Homo sapiens: one gene and its partners. The protein of the gene in region 7 purifies or fractionates together with the protein of the main gene of each other region. This does not show direct contact. Each region holds a gene or a part of one and is shown on either strand. Other genes may lie near its edges.

What was found.
Region 1: the proteins of BMPR2 (region 7) and GCGR purify together in Homo sapiens (affinity purification with mass spectrometry, with the first as the bait; one large-scale study listed by BioGRID). This does not show direct contact.
Region 2: the proteins of BMPR2 (region 7) and ENG purify together in Homo sapiens (affinity purification with western blotting, with the first as the bait; one study listed by BioGRID). This does not show direct contact.
Region 3: the proteins of BMPR2 (region 7) and MYH11 purify together in Homo sapiens (affinity purification with mass spectrometry; one large-scale study listed by BioGRID and IntAct). This does not show direct contact.
Region 4: the proteins of BMPR2 (region 7) and PRKG1 purify together in Homo sapiens (co-immunoprecipitation; one study listed by IntAct). This does not show direct contact.
Region 5: the proteins of BMPR2 (region 7) and DLK1 purify together in Homo sapiens (co-immunoprecipitation; one large-scale study listed by IntAct). This does not show direct contact.
Region 6: the proteins of BMPR2 (region 7) and MIB1 purify together in Homo sapiens (affinity purification with mass spectrometry; one large-scale study listed by BioGRID and IntAct). This does not show direct contact.

Annotation. Positions count from the first base shown.
Region 1 is NC_000017.11:81,802,662-81,806,949, forward strand, and holds the start of GCGR (glucagon receptor precursor), read left to right. Parts: upstream 1-1,488; 5' UTR 1,489-1,588; intron 1,589-1,996; exon of another isoform or gene 1,997-2,084; intron 2,085-2,488; exon of another isoform or gene 2,489-2,572; intron 2,573-4,288.
Region 2 is NC_000009.12:127,816,659-127,820,158, forward strand, and holds part of ENG (endoglin isoform 1 precursor), read right to left. Parts: intron 3,380-3,500; coding exon 3,242-3,379; intron 3,003-3,241; coding exon 2,964-3,002; intron 2,175-2,963; coding exon 2,058-2,174; intron 2,054-2,057; exon of another isoform or gene 1,942-2,053; intron 1,732-1,941; exon of another isoform or gene 1,720-1,731; coding exon 1,462-1,719; intron 1,200-1,461; exon of another isoform or gene 1,101-1,199; intron 686-1,100; exon of another isoform or gene 546-685; coding exon 491-545; exon of another isoform or gene 1-490. UniProt on the Homo sapiens protein: Vascular endothelium glycoprotein that plays an important role in the regulation of angiogenesis. Required for normal structure and integrity of adult vasculature. Regulates the migration of vascular endothelial cells.
Region 3 is NC_000016.10:15,847,029-15,850,528, forward strand, and holds part of MYH11 (myosin-11), read right to left. Parts: intron 1-3,500. UniProt on the Homo sapiens protein: Muscle contraction.
Region 4 is NC_000010.11:51,080,987-51,084,486, reverse strand, and holds part of PRKG1 (cGMP-dependent protein kinase 1), read right to left. Parts: intron 1-3,500. UniProt on the Homo sapiens protein: Serine/threonine protein kinase that acts as a key mediator of the nitric oxide (NO)/cGMP signaling pathway. GMP binding activates PRKG1, which phosphorylates serines and threonines on many cellular proteins.
Region 5 is NC_000014.9:100,729,892-100,733,391, reverse strand, and holds part of DLK1 (protein delta homolog 1 isoform 1 preproprotein), read right to left. Parts: intron 1,351-3,500; coding exon 1,209-1,350; intron 1-1,208. UniProt on the Homo sapiens protein: May have a role in neuroendocrine differentiation.
Region 6 is NC_000018.10:21,743,792-21,747,291, reverse strand, and holds part of MIB1 (E3 ubiquitin-protein ligase MIB1), read right to left. Parts: intron 1-3,500. UniProt on the Homo sapiens protein: E3 ubiquitin-protein ligase that mediates ubiquitination of Delta receptors, which act as ligands of Notch proteins.
Region 7 is NC_000002.12:202,382,827-202,386,326, reverse strand, and holds part of BMPR2 (bone morphogenetic protein receptor type-2 precursor), read right to left. Parts: intron 1-3,500. UniProt on the Homo sapiens protein: On ligand binding, forms a receptor complex consisting of two type II and two type I transmembrane serine/threonine kinases.

The DNA of each region.
Region 1 (4,288 bases), on a different chromosome or scaffold from region 7:
AGAGCTGGGCTAAGCTTCAGAGGGAAGTGGCCCCTGGGAGGGGGAATGGCTGGGGTTAAGACCCTGGGTTCCCACGCCCCCAAAACAGAAGTAGAATTAGGGAGAAAGGACCCCCAAGACCAAGGACGGCACCTATCAGAGGAGCTCTCCACGGGCAGGAGGTGTCCCAGGGTGAGGGTGGCCAGGACAGGTCTAGGGAAATGCAGGTGGAGCAGGACCCAGAGATGGATTGGAGATGCCGGAGGGGAGGCTTCCTAGCGGGAGCGGAGACAGGCACTGCAGACAAGTGTCAGCGGGAGGGGCTCTGGGTGGGGAAGAAGACTGGGACTTGGAGGAAGACCTCTCCAGGGAGAAGGGAGGAGGGGGAAGGAGAAGGGGAGGAAGTGGGAGGAGGAGAGTGCTCATCCTGGAAGCCACAGCCTCGGAGAGAACTTTCTAGAAGGAAGGCATGACCATCAGTGTCCCAGGATGCTGAGAGGCCAGGAAAGGTGAGGCCTCAAGGCGCCATGGGGTTGTGGTGACCCCAAGATCACTGGGCACAGAGCAGGGATGGCTGGGGGTGGAAGGGGAGGGGCGCGGGCTGAGGTTCTAGGGCCCCAAAGCCAGGTGTGATGTGGCTCTAGGGGGAGTGAGGAAGGGGAGAATGTCCCTCTGAGCGTGCCTCTTGGGGAAGGCAGGGGTTCTGGCTGGGGCTTCTCCACTCCCAGGAAAGGAGGTGGTGTGGAAGGAGCGGGTGGGACGGAGGAGAGAGCGCCCCGCGGCCGCAGGACCAGCAGGTGGGGGACCAGGGTCAGCGCTGCTGGAGGGGCCTTAGCGCGACAGGACTGGCCAGAGACCGGGGATGTGGCACAGAAAGAGTTAAAGGGCACCCCAGGGACCGCCCTGCCGGTCCACCCATGTCACCCATGTTGGCCCCTACTCCAGCCCCCGTCTGCTCTGCAGGGGAAGGAACCGGGAGCCGCGGTGGGGGCGACTGGGGGTGTCGGTCTTTCCAGAAAATCAGGCAGGCATCAGGAAAGAAGGGGCGAGAACCCGGGGACGCGAGAGGAAGGGGGCGAGGGGGCGCCCAGGGAGGCGGAGGGAGCGAGAGGAAGGGGGGCTGAGCCACGGCCCCCACGCCCGCGCGCCCCTCCGCGTCCCAGGGCGTCCCCTCCCGGAGCTGGGACCCACCGCGACCACCACCTGCTGGGCCAGGGTCCGCGGGCTCAGGGGTCTGCAGGATTAGGGTCTGCGGAACCAGGACCCGTGGGACAAAGGTCTGTGGGGCGCGGGTCCGCGGGGTGGAATTCAGCGCGCCGAGTCTGCGTATGGCCGGGGTACGAGGCGCTCCCTGCGCAGGGTGGGCAGGACCGAAGCTCGCCGGGAGGCTGCGCGGAGGGCGGGCGGGGACCCTCGGCTGCCGCTCCCACCCCCGCGGGGCCGCCCCCGAGCCCGCCCTCCGCCGCCGCCCTCGCCCTGCGTCGCCGCCGGAAAGTTTGCACCGACCCCGATCTGGCAGCGCCGCGAAGACGAGCGGTCACCGGCGCCCGACCCGAGCGCGCCCAGAGGACGGCGGGGAGCCAAGCCGACCCCCGAGCAGCGCCGCGCGGTGAGCACCTGGGCCGCGGCCCCGAGGGGACGTTGGGGAGTCGACCCGGTGGGGACAGAGACCGCGGGGCGGGCGCGGCGGGGCCGGGGGCGCGGGGAGCGGGGAGCCGGCCGGGCGGTCTCCGGGGTCCGGGCTGGTGCGCTCCTCAGTCCCGTCAGACACCCCCGTTCCCAACCCCGGCTCGGACACCACCCGGTCCTGCACCGTCGGGCAGGTCCAGGGGTCTCAGCCCCTCCCCCGTTCTCTGGTCCTGGGGGGCGCGGCTGGGGGCGGGGGTGTCGCTGGCCGCCTGGCGCCCTGCGGCGGCCACACTGCAGCGGCCACACTCCCCACTCAGGGCCCCGGGCCCCGCCGCCCTGGGGAGCGCACAAAGCGCCGCGGACGCGTCCCCGAGGCGCGGGGTCTCACCAGCGCTGTCTCCCCTCGGTGGGCTCCTGCCCCGAGGACTGCCCGGTGGCACCGGCGCGGCCCAGGATGGGGTGAGGGGTGTCTGCGCCCCGCCTGGCCGCTCCTCTTCCGCGGCCCACACTGGCGACTTTGACCCCGGCAAGCGGGTCACTGCCCTGCCCGGCTCCGGCCCCCCCGGCGCCCCACCACCCGGCCGACTCGGCCACCGGGCTTATGCTCCGACTCTGAACCGACTGACCCCGGCCCCCTCGGCGCCCGCATCCTCCAAGGACCGGCCAGGGCTGCTCTCTGCCCTTGGTATTGGGGACATCAGGGTTGGGGGGTCTGGGTGCACCCACGCCTGCCCCGCCCCCACGGGGTGAGGGCGCAGGGATAGGGCTTTGTCAACAGCCTGTGGCCCCTGATCCCGCCCCGGTGCCCTGACCTTCCACTACCTTCTCTGGTTTCACAAAAACATCCCGGCTCCCATCCCGGAGCTCCTCAAAGCGTCTGAGAGGCCCCTTGCGGACGCCCTGGGAGCCCCGCTGCCTTCCTGGACCAGTGGCCGCTCCACCCATCCTGGGGGCCCAGCTCCAGGTCTGCGGGTCCCTCAGCCGCCCCCAGTGGGAATCGGTGGAGCCTGACGCAGCCAGGAGCGCCCAAGAGTCACGTGTTCTGCCAGGGAGGACATGGGACAGGACACGGGGTGCCAGCCCTGCAAAGCGGCCGGGGCAGTGGAGCTCAGGTGGCCCTAAGCCCTGGTGGTGGCTGGTGTGGCCCGGCAGGCAGCTGTGGGAGGGAGGAAGGGGGTGGCATGCGGTGGGGGTCTAGAGAAGGCGGGCAGGGCACCTCGGGAGCCCCCCCATTGGGCACCTCGGGAACCCCCCACATTGGGCACCTCGGGAACCCTCCCATTGGGCACCTCGGGAACCCCCCACATTGGGCACCTCGGGAACCCCCGCATTGGGCACCTCGGGAACCCTCCCATTGGGCACCTCGGGAACCCCCCTATTGGGCACCTCGGGAACCCCCACATTGGGCACCTCGGGAACCCCCCCTATTGGGCACCTTGGGAACCCCTCCCCTAATTCTCAGCTGACTCCAAGGCCTGAGAAGGAGCTTGGTCACCTGGACTGTGAAGGTGGAGGGTGGGGTCCCTGGTGGGTCGTCCCACCTACCAGCTGTGTCGCCGGAAGGGTAATACGGAGCACTGTGGCCCCGGGGAGCCCCGAGTGGCAGCTCCACAGCTGGGAGTTTCTGTCCACTCCTTCAGTCAACAAACATTGATCCTGGGCTGACCGGGGCCCGGGGGTGTCAGTGTCTCCTCTCGGGGGAGAGGGCTGGGTGAGATCAACAGAGGAGCCTCCCTTCTTCCCTTCAGGCTGGTGTCACCTTCAGTGATGGGGCAGGGTCCCCACTTGGGAAGTTAAATCGTCGTCCCCGTCCCAGGACCACAGCAGCCTCAGCCCTGCTCTCCAGGCCAGGCTCTCTCATGGGTGCTCAGCTGGAAATTGGTCCCCCCCCGGCTCCACCCACCCCTGTTGGGGTGAGGAGCTGGAGTCTCCCTACCCATATGGGACCCACCACCCGCAGGGAACGGAGGACGCTCACACTTCTGCACCTCCTGCCTCACTATCAGAGACCCAGTGGAGAATTGCCTCCCACCTCACCTCTTGTATTCAGAGGCCCTGACCCCTAGGGATCCGGGACTAGGGGTGCCCTATGGGGAGCCCACCTGTGGCCTGTGGATGCTGAGCTGTCGGGGGAATCCTCCAGGATCCCCAGCCCCACCTTCCCAACCTTCTGTTGAGGCTGAGGGGACACAGAGCCCCACTCCTGGGTCCTGACTGTTTCAAAGAAAGGCCTGGGGGACTGGGCAGCCAACCCCTCCCTCGGCTCGCTGGGGTCTCCAGACTGGCTGCCCGGCTGGAAGGTGGGGCCCTGGCACGCGAGGACCTCATGTGTGGAGGCACTGGCTTGGGGGGTGCTCCCAGTGGCTCTAGAGTCAACATGACAGGCATCGAATGGCTCCTGTTTCTCTGGCAGAGTTGGGGCAGAGCCAGGCTTGGCCACGCTGGGCTCTAAGGGGCTGTCATTTTGCCCAGGGAGCTCCTGGCTGGGTGGTCCTCCCCCCAGGGTGAGCACGCGTCCCCCCCCACCCCCACTTCGAGGCGCCCAGGCAGGGAACAGCTCATTGGCCAGTGTCCTTCCTCCTTGTCCCCCGCCTGCATCTCCACCATCCACCCTGCTCCAGCTGCCCCTTGTCCCTCTCCCCGTCCCCTGCCCAGAGCCCCAGGTCTCCCCTGCACCCCT
Region 2 (3,500 bases), on a different chromosome or scaffold from region 7:
TAGGTGCCCCCATCCCTCACCCCTGCCTCTGCCACCAGTGTCGGGACTCTTCTGCCTGGTGTGGGCCTGGGCCTGGGGGGAACTGATGGAGAGGCTAGAGGGGGCGTCCTGCAGGGAGAGGCCTCAAGGAAGGCAAGGCCAGCACCCACCCTCAAAGGGCCTCTGTCTCACCCAGGAGACTCCATCCTCCCAGCAAGGTCAGCCAATAACTGTGGGGATGGAGTGGAGCCGTGAGTGGGGGCAGAGGCCTAGACTCCCACCCCACAGGGCGGTCCCGGGCAAGGGCTCTCCATCTGCAAAGTGCAGCTCTGGCCCCTGCTCTAGGCTGCTATGGCTCTGGGAAGCCCTCCTCCTGCCCCTTCTGGGCCGCTTTCTCTGGGGTCCCCCTTGCCATGTGCTATGTGCCCAGGCCGTTTCTCAGGGCTGCCCGCTGTGCCCTACTGTGACCTCAGCCACTAGAACAAACCCGAGAGACCTGGAGGGAGCTCACCAGACAGGTCAGGGCTGATGATGTTCAAGCGCATGAAGACAGTCCTATGGACTTCCTGGAGGAGAAAGAGAGAGCAGTATGTGGCACCTTTGGGAGGCGGCTTCCAGGTTTACTCCCTGGCTCCGTGACCCCAGCCCACCCTAGAGCCTTGGCTTTGAATCCCATCTCCACCGCTTCGTAGCTGGATGCCTCTGGGTGAGTCCTGGAAGATCTGTGCTGTGGGAGGGTGCCTAGTGGACGATCCCTGGCTGCTGCTGAAATGTTTCCTGTGAGTTCCTGGAGGCCTTGATGCCCAGGAGCACTGTGGAAGCACTATGCATCCCTCACCCTTGTGAACACTTTGGAGCTATGAGCCAGGTCAGCCCAGAGTCCCAGGCTCACTCTGGCTGGAGGGAGAGGCCCACTTAGGGGAGTTGAAGGCTTCCCTAGCTTCCTATGACCAGAGAAGTTTGTAATCCTGGAGGCCTGTCTGTGCAAGGGCCTGGGGGTGACTCTGGGGGCGTCCAGGATAGATTGCCTGAGAGTGGGGGTCACCAGATGGTGAAGTGTTGTGACTGGCAAATACAGAAAGCCAGGAGTGTGTGTCCTTTGTCCGCCTCTCTTCCCTCAGGTCTCCTGTTCTTTGAGATTACACTGGTGACCATACTACATGGATGTGCGGGTGGTTAGATTCCTGGGTGGGAGGGTGGATGGATGGATGGACGGACGGGTAAGTGAAAGGATGGATGGATGGATAGATGGACAGTGGCAGCTGCATAGTCTGCCAGTGCCCCAGACACAGCAGTCCCACCAGAAAGCTCTCGGGTGGCAGAAAGTGCTGCTGGCAGCCAGACTGCCAGGCCACATGCCTGATTAAGGCTCCGCCCCTCACCAGCTGGCCCCACATCCCTGTGGGCTGCCATGTCCCTTCCTGCAAACCACAGACCTGGAAGCTCCCACTTGAAGCTGGGGCCGGCCCAGGCCCCACTCACCTGGTCTTGAGACCCGGTCTTGGGACGCAGGGCTACCGTGCAGCTGAGGGTGCCGGTTTTGGGTATGGGTACTGTGTAGAAGTGGAGGAGGAAGCTGAAGCGCGGGTCACCCTCGGGGCTTGGGGACAGCAGGCTCACACAGTTGCCCTTGGCCGCCCGGCCCTGGATGAGTTCCACGGTGCCTCCCTCAGGCCCCAAGTCCAGGTGGCAGCTGTCTAACTGGAGCAGGAACTCGGAGACGGATGGGGACACTCTGACCTGCATGGGTAGGTAGGGCCACGCGGCATGGGCAGCTGCTCTTCACCCCACCCCACCTGCTGCCTTCAAATATCGGCTAGAATTAAGAGTTCCCACCCCTGAGTCCTCACAGTGGAAAGAAAGACATGGACCTGTCTGGGGCAGAGGAGGAGGACAGGGCCACATCCTTGTCAGTGTCCCTGAGCAATGCCTTCTCTGTCTCTCCCTCTCCCGTGCACCCAGGCTGTCTCCCTCCTGACTCTGGGAGTCTCATCTCCTCTGGAGTCATGGTGGGAAGAAAGGCGGAGAGGAAGTTCCAGGAGCTGGGAGGCCCGAGGGGTGACAGGCATGCCAGGTACCTGCACAAAGCTCTGCTGCCCCGGCTCGATGGTGTTGGAGGCCTGGAGGAAGTGTGGGCTGAGGTAGAGGCCCAGCTGGAAAGAGAGGCTGTCCATGTTGAGGCAGTGCACCTTTTTCTGGGGGAGGACGGGAGGGAGACTTGGTCAATCTGGCGGCGCCAGCCAGGAGGGCGAGGGGTGTGGGGAGGAACAGGCATCATGGCCCTGTGGAGTTGCCTGACTCTCTTTTTTTTTTTTTTTGAGACGGAGTCTCGCTCTGTCGCCCAGGCTGGAGTGCAGTGGTGCGATCTCAGCTCACTGCAAGCTCCGCCTCCCGGGTTCATGCCATTCTCCTACCTCAGCCTCCCAAGTAGCTGGGATTACAGGTGCCCGCCACCACGCCCGGCTAATTTTTTGTATTTTTAGTAGATACGGGGTTTCACCATGTTAGCCAGGATGGTCTCAATCTCTTCACCTCGTGATCTGCCCGCCTCGGCCTCCCAAAGTGCTGCGATTACAGGCGTGAGCCACTGCGCCCGGCCCTTTTTTTTTTTTTTAAACTAATATTTATCAAGGAGGCACCAGCTGCCAGGCTGTGTGAAGAGCTTCCACACAGCACCTCATTGGCTGCCCAGAAGCACCCTGTGGCGCAGAGTCCTTTCTTAGGCCACCTTTGGGCCCAGAAAACTAAAGTGACTTGCCCAAGGCCACACAGCCAGTATGTGCTAAGCCCTCTGACTTGAGAGACCAAGAGCGTCACCCTCAGCAGTCCTGCTCCGGTCATACAGAAGGGGAGACCGAGGCATTCCAGACACACATGGCTTGCCAGGAGTTTCCCGAGGCCTGCTCCCTCCCAGGCCAGGAAGAGGCCCCGGCCCAGCAGCAGCCCCTGGGCCAGGTGGGTTAGCACGTGACTGTCCATCTCACCCGCTGTGGTGATGAGCTCGACAGGATATTGACCACCGCCTGCGGGGATAAAGCCAGGGAGCTGGTCAGAGCCAGAAAGGACCCCAGAGGGTATCCCACCCAATACGCCCATTTTTGCAGATGGGGAGACTAAGCCAACCAATGGCCAAGCTTGTCTTGTGTTCTGAGCCCCTGCAGCCTGCTCTCCCAAACACACCTCCACCCTGGGGGATCAGGGAGGGCACCTGAGGGGGCACCAACCAGGCTGGTCCTGATACCTTTTTGGCCCCAGCTCTTACCTCATTGCTGATCATACTTGCTGACACCTGCATGCCACAGCTGGAGTAAGCACTGCGCAAGACAAACTTGTCACCCCTGTCCTCTGCCTCACAGCTGGGGTCCCAGAAGGTCAGGCCCGTGATGGTGCACTTCAAATGCTGGGTCGGAAGAGAGGGGCACCATCAGGAGGCACTGGGGTCTCTGTGGCCTGCCACACCCCAGCACCAAGGACTGACCACAACCCAGGGGTCCCAAGTCACAGCCATTCCCCTGCCCTGC
Region 3 (3,500 bases), on a different chromosome or scaffold from region 7:
AAGTACACTTCATTTTCCTTCCCTCTTATCTTTAATTGTGGTAAAATACAGCTAACATTCACCACCTCGGCCACTTAAACACAGTTCAGTAGCATTAAGTATATTGATATTCTTGTGCAATAATGAAGAGTTTGTGCAGATGGTAGCCAATTACATCCCAAGAGGGCTAGGAGAGTGTTTCATTTGTTCTAAGCACTATGACAAGTAAAGTGGACTTCTTTTTTTTTTTTTTTTTTTTCTGAGACAGGGTCTTGCTCTGTCGCCCAGGCTGGAGTGCAGTGGCATGACCTCAGCTCACGGCAACCTCCGCCTCCCAGGCTCAAGTGATCCTCCCACCCCAGCCTCCCAAATAGTTGGGACCACAGGCACCTGCCACCATGCCCAGCTATTTTCCTGTATTCTTTGTAGAGACGGGGTTTCACCATGTTGTCCAGGCTGAGGTCTTGAACTCCTGACCTCAAGTGATCTGCCTGCCTCGGTCTCCCAAAGTGCTGGGATTACAGGCATGAGCCGCTGTGCCCAGCCCTAAGTGGGCTCTTCCTAATTGCCATGTGGATGAGTTGCCTTAAAAGTCAGAAAAAATAGCAAAAGCTACAACAGAAAAATAAAAGGACACGCACGCCTCCATTGCCTGGGACCCTGTCTAACCTCAGACTTAAAAACACAAACAAGATCAAGTGCAAAGATTCAGTCTCTGTACAAAAAAGGAGAGCTTGGAGCAGGCTGGATTCCCTCTGGCTTTGATGTCTCTGACAGTTACGACGTGCAAAATCTGCTTTGGTCAAAAGACAGCAAGATGGGGGATGAGAAGCTTCGACTCATGCTAGAATGGTGTTTTCCATAGCATGCCCCTTGGAACCCTAATTCCCTGAAATATCTGGGCTGGGGTGGAGCTGCGGAGGTTGAGAAGCTCTTCAAACAGTGGCGCAGTCAAGGTCAAATCCATCTGGAAGGTGCTACATATTCCCCTTTCCCTCATTGAGACACAAAACACACAACAGGACACTTGAGTCTCTGGCAGATCCGGAAACCTGAAAGCTGTTTTGCTCCTACGAGCCTTGGGTCCCCAAAACAACATTTAGCCACAGATTTGCCAAATGTTTTGAGAATGTTTTCCTAAAAATTTGCCAAATTTTTGAGAAAATTCAGTGAGCCTGACAAATTAATAATACTAATACTAGTAATAATAGTTGCTAAGTCTTTTTTTTTTTTTTTTTTTTTTGACACAGAGTCTCGCTCTGTTACCCAGGCTGGAGTGCAGTGACGCAATCTCAGCTCACTGCAACCTCCACGTTTCTGGGTTCAAGTGATTCTCGTGCCTCAGCCTCCCAAGTAGCTGGGACTACAGGCATGCGCTACCATGCCTGGCTAATTTTTGTATTTTTAGTAGAGATGAGGTTTCACCATATTGGCCAGGCTGGTCTTGAACTCCAGGCCTCAAGCAATCCTCCCACCTTGGCCCCCCAAAGTGCTGGGATTACAGGCGTGAGCCACCGCAGCTGGCCACAAACTCTGCACTGTGACTCTTGGGCTGCGTCATTCTGTGTCGTGAGGGGAGCTCTTCCGTGCATTGTGGGATGTTCCGCAGCATCCCTGGTCTCTGCCCACCTGATGCCAGTAGCACCCCTTCCTCCACTCATGACAATCAAAAATGTCTCCAGACACTGCTAGATGTCCCCTGGGGTGGCAAAACTGCTTCCAGTTGAGAACCACAGCTTTAGAATAAAAACAAGGGCTGTCTTGGGAAAGGCAGTTAAAGCTGAGAGCAGCTCTCACTTAGTCAAACTCAACTCGGAATACCAACTGCAGAAGATCAGACGGGGGCAAGGTGAACACACTGGACCAGAGACGGACCGCCAGTTGGCCCAACCCCAGGGACACTCTTCATCTACCTTGATGCACCTTCCCAACCCTCCCTCCTCCACCATCGCTCATGTTTAAGGTCCTGCATCAGCTCCAAGGGCTGAAAGGACATCTCTGAAATTACTACCCAGAACTGCTGACCACGAAGTACAGTTCACTCATCAAGAGCTGCTCTCAATGTTTTTGGTTGGGGGAAGGGTCTCACTATATGCCCAGGGTGGAGTGCAGTGGTGCAATCATAGCTTACTGCAGGCTCAAACTCATGGGCTCAAGGGATCCTCCCACCTCAGGTGTGGGCCACTATGCCCGGCTTATTTTTTGTAGAGATGGGGGTCTTGCTATTTTGCCTAGGCTGGTCTCAAACTCCTGATCTCAAATGATCCTCCTGCCTTGGCTTCCCAAAGCTCTAGGATGACAGGCGTGAGTCACCTCGTCCAACTTTCTCGAATGTTTGGATGAAAACAAATGACTCTGTCACCTTTGGCATTAGCGATGTTTGACACATCTGAGTGTGTCAGCCTTGTTTACAGTCCTGTCCTGACCAACAACTGCTTCATTCTTTTTTTTTGAGACAGGGTCTGGCTCTGTTGCCCAGGCTAGAGTGAAGTGGCGCGATCTCTGCTTTCTGCAAACTCTGCCTCCCAGGCTCAAGCCATTCTCCCACCTCAGCCTCCCAAGTAGCTGGGATCACAGGCACGCACCAGAACACCCAGCTAATTTTTTAATTCTTGCATTTTTTTGTAGAGACAGGGGTCTCACTTTGTGGCCCAGGCTGGTCTCAAACTCCTGAGCTCAAGCGATCTGCCTGCCTCAGCCTCCCAAAGTGCTAGGATTACAAGCATGAGCCACCGCGCCCAGGCTGCTTCATTTTTTGAGCACAAACAAGCTAATCATTAGCCTCTGGAAGACCTTAGGATGTCAAGTAACGAGTCTCAGCTTTGCCCCAAACCTGCTGGGTGACTCTGGACAAGTCACTTGCCCTCTCTGGGCCTTGTATTTTTCATTTAGGGAAAATAAATCAATGGTAGGCTGGCCCAGCTCTACCATTTTATGGGACCCGTCTGTGACTCCCAGTCAAAGGGCTGAAACTGGACCAACTGAGAATGTCAGGTTGCTTTAGTTTGTTTTACCATCAGTTTCATTTTTCCCAGAAGAACTCAGGGGCAAAAGATCTTGCCCTCTCTGCTTCAGCATTAATAAAAAGTAAATTAGGCCGGGCATGGTGGCTGATGCCTGTAATCCCAGTACTTCGGGAGGCCGAGGCAGGCGGATAACCTGAGGTCAGTAGTTCAAGACCAGCCTGGCCAACATGGTGAAACCCCGTCTCTACTAAAAATACAAAAAATAGCCAGGTGTGGTGGTGGGCGCCTGTAATACCAGCTACTCAGGAGGCTGAGGAAGGAGAATCGCTTGAACCCAGGAGGTGGAGGGTGCAGTGAGCTGAGATCCCATCACTGCACTCCAGCCTGGGCGACAAGAGCAAAACTCTGTCTTGAAAATAAATAAATAAATAGTAAATTAAATATCCCAGAGCCCAGAGAGTATAGGATTTGCACATCACCTCACCTGGTCAACAGCTTCCCTCAGGATTTTACTGCCAAGCCATTGGCTAAAGATTTTGGACCAGAGACAAAAAC
Region 4 (3,500 bases), on a different chromosome or scaffold from region 7:
GTAATTAACATTATTTTATTTTTGATGCAGGTGAAAGTAGTATATCTTGGTAGTAAATTGTCACTAATTTCTTCTTTTTATATGAACTCCCATCCTTTCATAGGTTGGAATAAAAGAATGCAAAGACACAGATATTTTCCCAGTGTCCTACCACCAACTTCTGCCTATCATTCTGCTTCTAACTGCTAAGTCATAATAATTAAACACATGTTTTTGGTCATGTTTTTCATTGTTTCTAATTCCTCTTATCCCTCCCCAATTACGCGCAATAACCAAATGCACTCCATGAAGCTGGATTCATAATGAAAGTGTTTACTTTACTTATGATTAACTTCCCTGCATAATTAATGTCCCCAATCCTCCGGGTAGCCTTATTACATCTATTCTGTTTTAACATACTATCTGTCAGCTGAATACATTTTCATATTTTAGGAGTGGGGAAAAGACAGAAAAGCTCCTTGCTGACTCCGATTCTAAGATTATTTTTATCAAAAAGTATTTGCAATTATATTAGCTATTTTCATTGCTTATATAAAGTGCTATATTGGCTGATCCTCACCTGAGAAGGTAATGATTAAATTACAAATGTAAATAGGCTCCTAGCAGAGACCATTAGCAACACCTTGAGGACTTTGTAACAAGGATCTAAGGGGACAGAGGGCAGGAAAGACACACAGAGCTGGCAATAGGGGCAGCAGTGAGGTCTGACCACAGGGTTTAGGAATTCTCATTTCCCCTGGAAGTCTTCATGAGGGACACACCAAGATCTTTTATTGCAGGTGTCGTCTCCGACCTCTCAACTGCCAGCAATGCCCAGATCTGTCCACTTAAACCAAGCCTCCTGGAAAGGGGGCTGAAAGGTTGATGTGCTAGTTCTGCTTTCTCTGAAGTCTCCTCGGAAAGTACTCCTCAGCCTGAGCTCACGCTGTTTGCCTTAAAAGGATAAAATATCTGTAGGAAAAAAAAAAAAAACTGTAGCTGGCTGCAGAGACATCACATACCAAGAGAGACGCTACAAGCCCAGGACTGCTCTTCCAAGAGGCGCTCATCATTGTTTCACCTTCAACTTAGCATTGGATAGCAGGAGCTGGGACCCAAAGAAACTATCTGGCCACAGAGGCAGCTGCCCTCAGCAAGAATTTAAAAACAAAACAAACAAACAAAAAACTTGGGATGAAAGCTGATCCTAATGTGTGTCACATTTGAAAGTGGCCAGGAACCCTGGCTGGCAGGAAAGGGGAAACAAACTTACCCACTGAACAGAGCTGCTGCCACTTTTGTGTGCCCCAGGTCCTTAACAGGTAACCCCAGAGATTAAAGTGATGCTGATAGGTTCAGATGCTAGGGAGATTGGGGAGCTGAAGCTGCCTGGCTCCACTGCAAGCCAGGGACTTGGGTTGCTCAAAAAGAAACAAGAAAGGTGCTTCCCCAAAGAATAGGAATTCAAGTAGTCTGTAACAATCAACAATGAATGGGTCATAGCAGAGGTTTCTCAACCCTGGCTGAATATTATAATCACTTTGGGAGTAAAAATAATATACCTATACCTCAGGTCTACCCCAGAGCAATTAAATCATAGGCTCTGGAGGTGGTGCCCAGCAAATGTATGTTTTAAAGCTCCCTAGGTGATTGTAACATACAGCTATGTTTGAGAACCAATGGGCTAGGTAGGGAAATGATCACTTGTTTAGGAGAATAAACAAGAAGGCATCAACTAAACTACACGTACAATTTGTCTACACGTACAATTTGGCAAAAAAAAAAATCCAGCTATGCTTTCGCAGGCCCCTAGTGCTTAAAGGTTTTAGCCAATAGAGACATTCAACTCTTTAGATGAACACTTTATCCTGGTCTTTTGTTTAATATCACACACAAATGTACACACACAACAAACACACACACTCCTCTTGTCATCTTCCTATTAGAGTGGTTATCAAATTTTGCTACACGTTAAAGTTACATGGAGAATCATCAAAAATTACTGATATGTAGCTTCCAACACCCGGACATTCTGATTTTAATTGGTTTGTGGTACAATCTAGGAATTGGATTTTTATGTTCCCCATGTGATTCTAATGCGCAGGAAAGTTTGGGAACCGCCGTCCTACATTATTTCTTCCACTAGTCCCAGAGTCCTTCTGCTTCCTATTTAATTATTGGTGAACAGATACACCCCAGAGAATGACCTATATGTTATTCATAAAGTTTTCCTGCAGCTACCTAATCCCCATGACCCTTTGGGCAGTAAGAGAGCCTAGTGGCTAAGGAGAAAAGCTCTGGAGCTCAAATTCAGGCTCAACCTAGTGTGACTGTGGGCAAGTTGCTTCACTTCTCTGCGCCCCAGAGTTCTTTTTCTCATGCTGTGAAATTGGGATAATCCAGAATCTTCCTCATAGGGTTGTTTTTGTCCTAAAAAAAAGATGATCAGGTGGGGTGCGGTGGCTTACATATGTATTCCCAGCACTTTCTTTGGAGGCCCAGATGCTGGAGAATCATTTGAGGCCAGAAGTTCAAGACCAGCCTGTGCAACTGAGACCCTGTCTCTACAGAAAAAAATTAAAAATTATCCAGGTGTGGTGCTATGTGCCTATAATCTTGGCTACTCTGGAGGCTGAGGCAAGAGGATCACTTGAGCCCAGGAGTTTGAAGCTGCAGTGAGCTATGGCTGTGTCACTGCACTCCAGCCTGGGCAATAAGACAGAAAGAACCTGTCTCAATCAATCAATCAATCATTCAATCAATGAAAGAGACAATCTATATAAAGCACAGGAGCAGTGCCTGGCACAGAGTTAGTGCTCCATAAATGTTACCCAATCTGATGATGATGAGCAGTGTAATTCTTGATGCTTTCATTCAGAAGCAGGATGCACTGAGTTGTTGCCCTTATTCTTGTCCTCTGCACTGTTGGCTGCACAAACACCACCAAGTCCTCAATGATGTCAAATTAAGGAGCATTTCAAAGGGACAATACAATGCATTCAAAACAAGCACTGGTCTAATGGGAAACTATCTTCAGTATAGCTCCCTAAGAAGGCAAGCCTTCGATATACTCTAATTTGGGTGTCTCTTCTCTATGGCAGTCTTCATCCATAAAGTACTATCTTACTTGCAAGCTCTTTTCCAGTCTTGTCACCTATTTACTTGCACACAAAGCCTATCACTATTTTCCAACTTCCTTGCAAATATGGCATAGTTTTACCAATACCCATCTCGTTTCGCCCTTTCTTGTTCCCTCGATATGCATTTCTTCTTCTCACTCTACTCTCCAGCTTTTTTCATTGCTTATAAATTTCACGCTTAAAATATAGGCAGCCTCTAGAAGCTGAAAAAGACAAGATATGGAGTCTCCCCTAGAGCCTCCAGAAGGAATGCTTATATGAATTTTATAAGCAATGAAAAAAGCTGGAGAGTAGTATGCTTATAAAATTCATTCAGAAATAAGACAGTTTTGAGAGTGTACTATTAGTTCCACATTGTGTTAAACATCTGTTTTGTGTAGC
Region 5 (3,500 bases), on a different chromosome or scaffold from region 7:
GCATTTAATGTAAGTGCTTTTAAACGAGCGAGCCCTTTGTCATCCGATAAATGGCAAAACTCCGGGGAAGAAGGGGCAGTAAACACAAGAAATCAGCACTGCTGCTTCAGGGTGTGGGCTGCATGGGAGCTGGGCTCTGAAGGAATTTCAAGGGCCTTAGGCTCTATTTTGACACACTGGTTTAAGTCCATTCGCGAGAAAAGCAAAATATTTTAAAGGTCTCGCTCTGTTTTTCTCCTTCCTGCTAATAAGCAGAAATGGAGTTCAGTCTTCACCAGCCCCCACTCTGACCCCGTCTGAAGACTGATCTTTGGAAGCCCCGTTAATGTCTGTTTACAGCTCTTACAGACTACTGGGGTCTCTGTGCCACCCTGCGATGTCCGGTCAAGATAAGCTTATTTGCATGTTAGCTTCTGTTTCTTCAGAGGAAAGGGACACCCCTGCCCCCCAACTACAGGCCCAGGACTGGGTTCAAGTTTGGATTCTTACATTCGGACCCTGCCTCTGTCAAGATCTCCCTTGGCTTCAGGCTAAGCCCCATCCAGCGGGGAGGGATGGCTCAGGGCCGCCAAAGAGATAATGGGTGGGCAGAGGCTGAGCTGCTGGGAAGCATTGTTCAGGGAGGTCCAAGTGAAGACAGTGGCCACTCTGTCTGTTATGTCCGCTGCCCAGGAGTCCCAAAGCCCCCTTCCCCACTGAGGATAGCCGACAGCTGGCCCACCTCCTCTCGTGCTGGCAGAAGCCCAATCTCTTCACCTCTCAGCCTGGCAACTCCCTCCACAGACATCCCAGAAAATCCAATTGCAGAGCCCACCAGTTCCCCAAAACCACCCCCTGAGATACAGCAAGTGGGTTTCACAAACAGCCTCAGCCCCGCGGAGCTCCAATCTTTTACTACGTTGCCTTTAGAAAATTACGCAGCTCCGAGTGTCAGTTCATCATTCCGATCGACTGTCACTCACACGCATCGGGACTTGAGAACATCAGGGGAATATGAAATCGCCTTCAGGATCATTTGAAAAAATTATGGCAATGACACATTCCCCCGTGAATACTCCCATCCAGGGCGGTCCCCTACGGGGCTGCCAGGATGAGCGCTTACTTCATCTTTTGTCAGACGACAGGTCCAGCAGGGTTAGGCTGAAAGGGTCTTTGGTGGCCGCATGAAAAGCAGCATTCATTAGATCACACACAGGAAGGATATTTACCCGTTGATCACACAGGGCCCGTCCTTTTTCTGGCAGTCCTTTCCCGAGTACCCGGGGGCACAGGAGCATTCATAGAGGCCATCGTCCAGGCTCACGCAGGTCCTGTTGTTGGCACAGGGGGCCGAGGAGCAGGCCCGAACATCTGCGGGGTGACGGGGAAGACGAGAACTTAGCTTCCTCTCCATACACGAGCGTGATGCGGGCCCCAGTGGGCTTTAAAATGGCTCTATGGCCACCGAGTGGGGTCTGGAGTAAGAGGGTTTAGGGAGCCCCCTCAAAAAAACCCATGAAGTGAGTAAGCTGAGGCTCAGGAAGCTGAAGGGGTTTCCTTGCCTAAGGTCACAGATCAGAAAGTCGTGGCCACTGATATTCAGGCCAGGATAGCTGTTCCCTTTGCCTGGCACCAGGTCACCCCATATCCAGCGACATGTCCGTGACGTTCACTGTGGACATCATGCCCCTCCCTGCAACAGCGTGCCTAGCTGAGATTCCCTAAGGCCTGTCTCCACCAGACAAGACTGCATCTCCACCCTCTCCTGTTAGGGGAGGGGTCCTGGCCAGCCGGGGGATGAATACAGCCCAACCCTCAGAAAAACCACCAGCTCTTCATACTTTTCCATCAAAGAGGGGCAGTGGGGGGGATGGAGATGTAACGACCCCCCTCCGTCAGGAATCAAGAAACCTGTTAACCCCAGCACTACCACGTGTCCCTGTGGTCTCTCTTTCTGCACTCAGGCTCTGAACTCAAGGGGTCCCTGGTAAAAAGGCTTCATCTTTTAAAGCCAGGGAAATTAGAACTATTGAGCGCTCTCCTATCAGCACAGGTTTCCATGAGCACTGGTATATTCCCACCATCTTTTAACACCTTCCATCACGCACACTTCATTATTCAGGTTCAGCAAGCCAGGGATGAGCTGAACACAAGGGCCTGAGTCAGGGGCTCTCTGATGATGGAGACCCCAGCTCCCCAGTGGGGCCAGGAAGGGACCCCTGTCCTGCCCTGTATCCGGCCTGCTGCCATGTGGCAGCAGAGTTCAGCTCCTACCCATTCTGGGCCTCAGTTTCCCTACTTATAAAAAGAGGGTCTTTCCCTGGCCAATCTCTGAGGGACTCTTCAGCTTTGATTTTCTATAATTTGAGCTGCTGTACCTGCCAAACAGAAAGCCAGGGCCAGTGAGAGACACAGCAAGCTAAGGCAGGCTGGAGGGGGTGGGGGGAGGGGAAATCCCCCGTGCTGAGGCCACACATGTGCGTATTTTTTCCCCCTCTCAGAGAGACCCACACCCTCGTGGAGGGGAGACTGCAATCAATCAAGGAGGAAGAGCCTGAACGTTGTGTTGATGGACTACCCCGTGGTGTTCCATGGAAGCCCGGCTTGGTGCAAGGACACATAAAGAGGATTTATCTTTACGGGACGGCACCGGCAAGGCATTAGCACGTGGCGCCTCCGCGTCAGGCTCCTTATTCTCTGCACCCGACTCTCCTGTCACTCAGAATCTTAAATTTAAGCTAAAAAGCTGGCGACCACCCCCAGCTTGTCCCTGCAGCTCTCCCTGCTATGCCAATCCTGGATCAGCCCTCCTGAGCCTCCAACCCCAAGACAGGGGTGAATTAAGCTGCTCTGAGGAAAAGGCTGCTTGGGGGTCTCTGCTGGGACAGCAGCTGTGGCCACGACAGCCTCAAAGATGGGCAAAAAGGGAGAGGGAGGGCTATGTCTTCTCTGGGACCCCAGACTCTCTGGCCATCCCCAAGCTGGCTGCCTTTGTCAACTTGGTGGGGAGGGGACATACCAAGGGCCCATGAGAAGGGAGGCATTTGTCCGGAAAATTTCAGCAAGGGTGTACGGCATTTAGATACCAAAAAGATGGGCTCCAAGCTAAAAGCCTAACCCTGATCCCAAATGGTGGCTTTGCTGGAATCCCCCAGATCCTCAAACGACTCAGAGCTGCTGCCGCTGCTTCTGTGAGGGGCAGCAGAGATGCTGGCCAGAGCATGAGTCAGCTGCGGGTAAACCTTGCACCATATTGCAGGGGCTGGAATTAAGGACCAGAGACAATTTGGGGTGGGAGGGAGCTCAGCTTCAGAACCACGGCTGCCCTGGCTGTACAGGGCAGGGGCCACAACAAAATGCTCTTAGGTGTTCCTTAAGGAAGGATGTTAGATGCAATCGAAGATAAAAATTAACTCTCTTTCTGGGGCTGGGGGAAAGGGTTGTAGCTGGCTTTTTGCCCAACTTCTTTCATATTCCTTAGCAGACACTTGTGCTTCTCTGATCCTCAGTTTCCCTATCTG
Region 6 (3,500 bases), on a different chromosome or scaffold from region 7:
GCTCAACCAAGCTGCAATCTACAGGGACTATTAAGAACTAGATAGACTTTCATAATTTACAACATTGTTTTAGTGGAGGAAATAAAATAAGAAAGACATTTTACAGAAGCCTTTAAAATAGGTAGGATCTATGAGGAAATAAAGTTTTCCTTGCAGATGTCATTAATAAAAAACATTTTGTGATATTTCATCCTTTCCAGGTGTGGCATCCTGCTCCCCAAACATTGTTCCCTCAAATCCTGTTTTTTCCTACGGCTTTGTGTCCTGACAAATACCCCTTTCTACTGTGGTTCTAGAAACAGATCAGAATAGGGGACTCTATTCTGATAAAGAAAAGCTGAGGATTATTAATTCATTTCATTTTTTTAATCCAGGGTCAGCCCTTTTAAACCTTCAACTGAATACAAAACATCTGAGAAGTTTTTCCACGTATGACTGGAGAGGCATTCTTTGCTAGCGGTCAAAGACAAGGACAAAGAACTACCCCCAAAACAGTTTGAATGAACTATGACCAGAAGCTGGTTTTGAATAAAGCTGATTTTCTATACCTCTAACTCTGTATTATCGACACGAAGAATGACAGAACCTTAACAGGAAATCTACATTCATTTTCTCCATTATCTCTGGTAACAATACAACACTGTAGTCAAGTGAACACAAAGCAAGCATAAATAAAAACACATTTTTCTCCAACTCCTATAAAATCAGTGCCTAGATGATAAAAAGTCAACTATACCTACTTGACTACAGACTTTACAAAATTAGTCCAAACTAATTAAATAACATCCCATATAGTCCCAAAATCTTCTTGCTCACTACAAATGAGCCAAATGAATCTCGAAACAAGACAGACGTTATATCACTCAAACAGATACTAAATGCTCCTCTCTGCAAAGTTTAACTATCCTAGACCATAAATTCAAACATATCATGTGTGTCCTGAAAGAAAAAATAAAGCTGATATGCCAAAATATTAGAGACCCGCATACAACTCCCAGACAAAATCTTCAAAATGTAGTGAGAAAAATCGTATCAGAAAGATTCACAATGATCCAACCACTCCAGAATCCTTAACTCCCAGAAAAGTTGCAAGGAATCTTATGCTGAAGGTTACCCATTTCTTAATTCCCAATCATACTGCAATAAATTTTCTATTCATATAATATAGGTGGAACTAGGGAACAAATGATGAATAATCAAAGGCAACCTCAGTTCTCCCTCTGATAAATATAAGGCTTTTTTTTAAATTAAGTACAAAAATATGACACACACAAAAATATAGAAAGGGCTGGGTGTGGTGGCTCACACTTGTAATCCCAGCACTTTGGGAGGCTGAGGCTATGGATCACTTGAGGTCAGGTGTTCGAGACCAGCCTGGCCAACATGGTGAAACCCCGTCTCTACCAAAAATACAAAAGTTAGTCAGGTGTGGTGGTGCATGCCTGTAATTCCAGCTACTCAGGAGGATGAGACAGGAGAATTGCTTGAACCTGGGGGACGGAGGTTGCAGTGAGCCGAGGTCACACCACTGCATTCCAGCCTGGACCACAGAGGGAGACTGTCTCAAAAAAAATAAAATTTTGTGTGTGTGTGTGTGTGTGTGTGTGTGTGTGTGTTTAACACCTATGCACTCACCATGGGGTAGGTTTAATCACAGAACATTACCAAAATACTTAAATGCCCCTGGTGTACTTCCACCAATCGTGCTCTCCACTCCCTTCACCATAAGGATGTCCCACTCTCTTAAATTTAGTGTTTATCTTACCTTTACGTGGCATACTTTTACCACGCATGTACATATCCCTAAACCAATGAGTCTCAATTGGGAGCAATTTTGCCCCCACTAGGGGACATCTGGCAATGTCTGGAGATATTGTGGGTTGCCACAAGGAGGTGGGGTGCTACTGCTGCTAATGGGTAGAGGCCAGGGATGCCTGCCTACAATGCACAGGACATTCCTATAACAAAAAATTATCCTATCCAATTCAAAATGTCAATAGTGCCAAGGCTGCAAAACCCTACCCTAAAATAGTTTTGTTCCGCACTTTAACAGACCGTAGGTTTTCTTTTGCAACTTACTTTATTTGCTTAACATTCTCTTCTATACAGTACTGCACTATACAAATTCATACAACTTATCCAGTCTCCTGCTAAGGTACATTTAAGTTTTTTCCAATTTTCTGTTTTTACATGCAACACTGCTGTGAACATTCTTTTTTAAATTTTATTTATCTCAAAACCATAGTAACTGCTGTGAACATTCTTATACAAGCTTCTATGTGCTCAAATAGAGATTCTCTCCAGGGCAGTGACTTTTAAAGTGTTATTCTTCAACCTCTAGGGAAATCCTCAAGACCCTTTGAGGGACTTCATGAAGTCAAAAGTATTTTCACAATAATATGTAAGATACAAGTTATCTTTTTCATACTGGCATCACATTGCTGGTACAAAAGCAACAGTTGGTAAAATTCCTGGTGACCTAGCCGAGTTAACGCTATAATTAATGAGACATACGAACACCATGTACCTCCTGGTACGATGCACTAACAAGGGCAAAACATCATTTCTATGATATTCTTGCCGAAAATACATAATCTGAATTTAATCATGAAAAAGCAGCAGAAACACCCAATTTGAGAGATAACAAGATTGTTTTTCATTACTTTGACACTGACTAAAGACTGAGGAACTCACCCAGATTGGAAGAGACCACTAAATGCAACGTGTGATCTTGGATGAGAAAAAGAATACTAGTAGGACACTAATAATAACCACTGCATATAATTTGAATAAATAAAATTTGAATAAGGTGTATAGATTAGTTAATACAGTATTACCGTATTAGTGTTAATTTTCTGGTTTTGATCATTGTACTTGCTAAGATATTAACAGCTGAAGAAGGTGGGTAAAGGGCAAAAGGCAACTCTTACTAGTTTTGTAATTTTTCTGGAAGACTACAATTGTTTCAAAAACAAAAGTTAATTTTTAAAATGTTAATATTATGCAAATAAATATCAAGTACTTAATAAATATTGAGTAATCTTATAGAATGTAATAAAATGTCAGTGAACACTGATTATTAAATATTTTGAAGAAAAAGGAAAACACTGAAAGTAGTATTATAGTCCTGGGGCAAAACAAGAGCCAGGAGCTTACAATTTTGCTCAGTTCTAAAAAAAAAAAAAAAAAAAAAACCCTGAAGAATTTAAAAGGTTGAAATTAAAATATATTTCAACAAGTATTTCATATGAAGGTTGGCTATCCTGCTCTTAAAATGTTTGTTAAAAGACCAAATGAACAAGATAAACCACTACATATAACAAATTAATGTATAAAATTATCTTATTAAACTAAGATTCTAAAACAGTTACTTCTGAAAAACATCTACGTTTATATTAAGATAATAAAACTATTAATATGATAGATACACCCCATACTACAAACATATAGATAACATTAATGTCCCTTCAAAAATCACCGTAGTAAAGAATCTGTTACAC
Region 7 (3,500 bases):
TGGACAGGTTAAGTTTGTGATGAATATCAGACATCCAAGTAGATACGACAGATACACAGTTGGCTACATGCAACAGAATTTCAAGGAAAGAAGTCTGAGATAGAAATAAATTTGAAACTTGTACGCCTTTAGATGCTATTTAAAGCCATAAAACTGGATGAGATCACCAAGAGGGTGGGTGCAGACAGAGAAAAGGTCTAAAGACTGAATCCTGAAACACAACATTTAGCCATCAGGGACATAAGGAGGAACTATCAAAGTTGCTGGTGAGGTAGGAGAAAAATCAAGAGAGAATAGTATCTTAAAAGCCAAATGAAGAAAGTACTTGAAGGATGAAAAAAAAGGATTAAATTGGCTCATGCTACAGATAGGTCAAAACAAGAACTTGGAAATAAATCAAACAACAAGCAGGACATACGCACAGAAGTATTAAATATGGCATTGTTTATTAGAGAAGAAAATCGGAAACAACCTAAACATCTCCCAATATGAATTAAGTAAATAACAAATACACTCAATGGAATATCACACAATTATGAAAAAATGATAGTTATTAAGATCACATATACATGACTATATTATTCTATGTAAAAAAAACAGATATAATTAATAGATATTATAAAATCACAACCATATAAAAATACATGCTTTTTTTTTTTTTTTTGCCAGGCGTGGTGGCTCACGCCTGTAATCCCAGCACTTTGGGAGGCTGAGGCGGGCAGATCACGAGGTCAGGAGTTCGAGACCAGCCTGGCCAACACAGTGAAACTCCGTGTCTACTAAAAATACAAAAACTAGCCGGACATGGTGGCGCACACCTGTAGTCCCAGCTACTCGGGCGGCTGAGGCAGGAGAATCGCTTGAACCCAGGAGGTGGAGGTTGTCGTGAGCCGAGATCACGCCACTGTACTCCCACCTGGGCAACAAAGCGAGACTCCGTCTCAAAAAAAAAAAAAAAAAAAAAAGCATCTTTTTTTTAATTAGAAGAAAACATACCAAAACAAAAAGTGTTAGGGTTGTGTGAAGATTAATATTTTTTCTCTTAATTTTTCAAATGAAAACAAAAAAAAAAGCTTGCCCTAAAAGGTTAGCCTGGTGTGTCTACTACAATTACATAGATTTGCTCACAGACTATTCTTATTTACAAAAGCAAAGACTGAACACAGATTAATAATAATAGAAAGTCTTAACTATTTCCTCATCTAAATGAAACAAAAAACTGAAGAATTTGGATTACTGGCCAAATATTTATACATCCCTTCACACTTATCATTAACACATTTTGTTCTAAATTTTCCTATTTTGCACTAAACTTACTGGGGCAGAATGAAAGTACATGATCATGTACATTTTTGACACCAATTATAAGGGCAAACTACTGTCTTGAAGGAGAAAGGGGAAGTGAGATCTGGTTTTAAGAAACTGAAATTTCTTGGCCAGGTGCGGTGGCTCACGTCTGTAATCCCAGCACTCTGGGAGGCTGAGGCAGGCAGATTACCTGAGGTCGGGAGTTCGAGACCAGCCTGACCAGCATGGAGAAACCCCGTCTCTACTACAAATACAAAATTAGCTGGGTGTGGTAGTGCATGCCTGTAATCCCAGCTACTCAGGAGGCTGAGGCACAAGAATCACTTGTACCCGGGAGGTGAAGGTTGCAGTGAGCAGAGATCTTGCCATTGAACTCCAGCCTGGGCAACAAGAGCAAAACTCCGTCGAAAGAAAGAAAGAAAGAAAGAAAAGAAAGAAAAGAAAGAAAAAGAAAGAAAGAAAGAAAGAAAGAAAGAAAGAAAGAAAGAGAAAGAAAGAAAGAAAGAAACTGAAATTTCTCAACCTCCATTTGCATCTAACCTTCCAGAAAGAGATGTGGATCAAATACCTAACTGTCCCAAATACCTAACTCCATCTAAAATTCTTAGGCCAATGCCTCTGGCACAATACTTTATCATGTCTCATAATTTTTCCACCAAGTCCACCGTCGACACATTTAAGACGTGAATGATTGCACACATTTTGCACTATATCTTGATAATTTGGGTAATGTATTTTAAACGTTACTGATGCACAAGGCAGGGTTAAGGTACAGTGTTGGGCATTGTGATTCTAGGCATGCATATAATCTTTCATATCAGTGTTTTTTTGTTTTGTTTTGTTTTTTGAGATGGAGTTTCACTCTTTTGCCAAGGCTGGAGTAAAGTGGCACAATCTTGGCTCACTGCAACCTCTGCCTACTGGGTTCAAGTGATTCTCCTGCCTCAGCCTCCCAAGTAGCTGGGATTATAGGCGCCCGCCACCACGCCCGGGTAATTTTTGTATTTTTAGTAGAGATGGGGTTTCACCATGTTGGCCAGGCTGGTCTCAAACTCCTAACGTCAGTTGATCCACCAGCCTCGGCCTCCCAAAGTGCTAGGATTACAGGTATGAGCCACCAGGCCCAGCCAATATTAGTGCTTTTGAAAATAGTAATTTTTTTTTTTTTGAGATGGAGTCTCGCCCTGTCACCCAGGCTGGAGTGCAGTGGTACGATCTCGGCTCACTGCAACCTCCGCCTCCCAGGTTCAAGTGATTCTCCTACCTCAGCTTCCTGAGTAGCTAGGATTACAGGCATGCACCACCACGCGTGGCTAATTTTGTTTTTTTCTTTTTTTTTTTTTTTTGACAGAGTTTCGCTCTTGTTGCCCAGGCTGGAGTGCAAAGGCACAACCTCGGCTCACCACAACCTCCGCTTCCCAGGTTCAAGCGATGCCTCAGCCTCCCGAGTAGCTGGGATTACAGGCATGTGCCACCACACCCGGCTAATTTTGTATTTTTAGTAGAGACAGGGTTTCACCACGTTGGCCGGGTTGGTCTCGAACTCCTGACTTCAGGTGATCAGCCCACCTTGGCCTCCCAAAGTGCTGGGATTACAAGCGTGAGCCATGGCAACTGGCCTAATTTTGTATTTTAGTAGAGACGGGGTTTCACCACGTTAGTCAGGCTGGTCTCAAACTCCTGACCTCAGGTTATCAGCCCGCCTTGGCTTCCCAAAGTGCTGGGATTATAGGTGTGAGCCACAGCTCCCAGCCAAATTTTTGTATTTTTTGTACAGCAGGGCTGGTCTCGAAATCCTGACCTCAAGTGATCCGCCTGCCTTGGCCTCCCCAAGTGCCAGGATTACAGAGTAAGCCACTTCGCCCAGGCCACACTGCAAATTTTTAAAAGGAAAAGATTTTGGGTAATTGCTTAATGCACAAATTAAGAAATGTTTGTTCCTAATGTTTACCAGATTAAGCAATAAAAGATATAGATTAAGTAGTAATTACCACAAAAAGTAGAAATAAAGTTATAGAACTTGAGAGTTAGAAAGAATCTTAGATCCAGTAGTTCTCAAAGGTACCTAAAATTTACTGGCTGATGAGGGCATCAAAGGCAGATTCCCAGGCTCGTTGTCCAGAGATTTGGATTCAGTAGGTCTAGTGGGGTACCCATGAATCTGTATTTCAAAATGATCAAGTACAACCCCA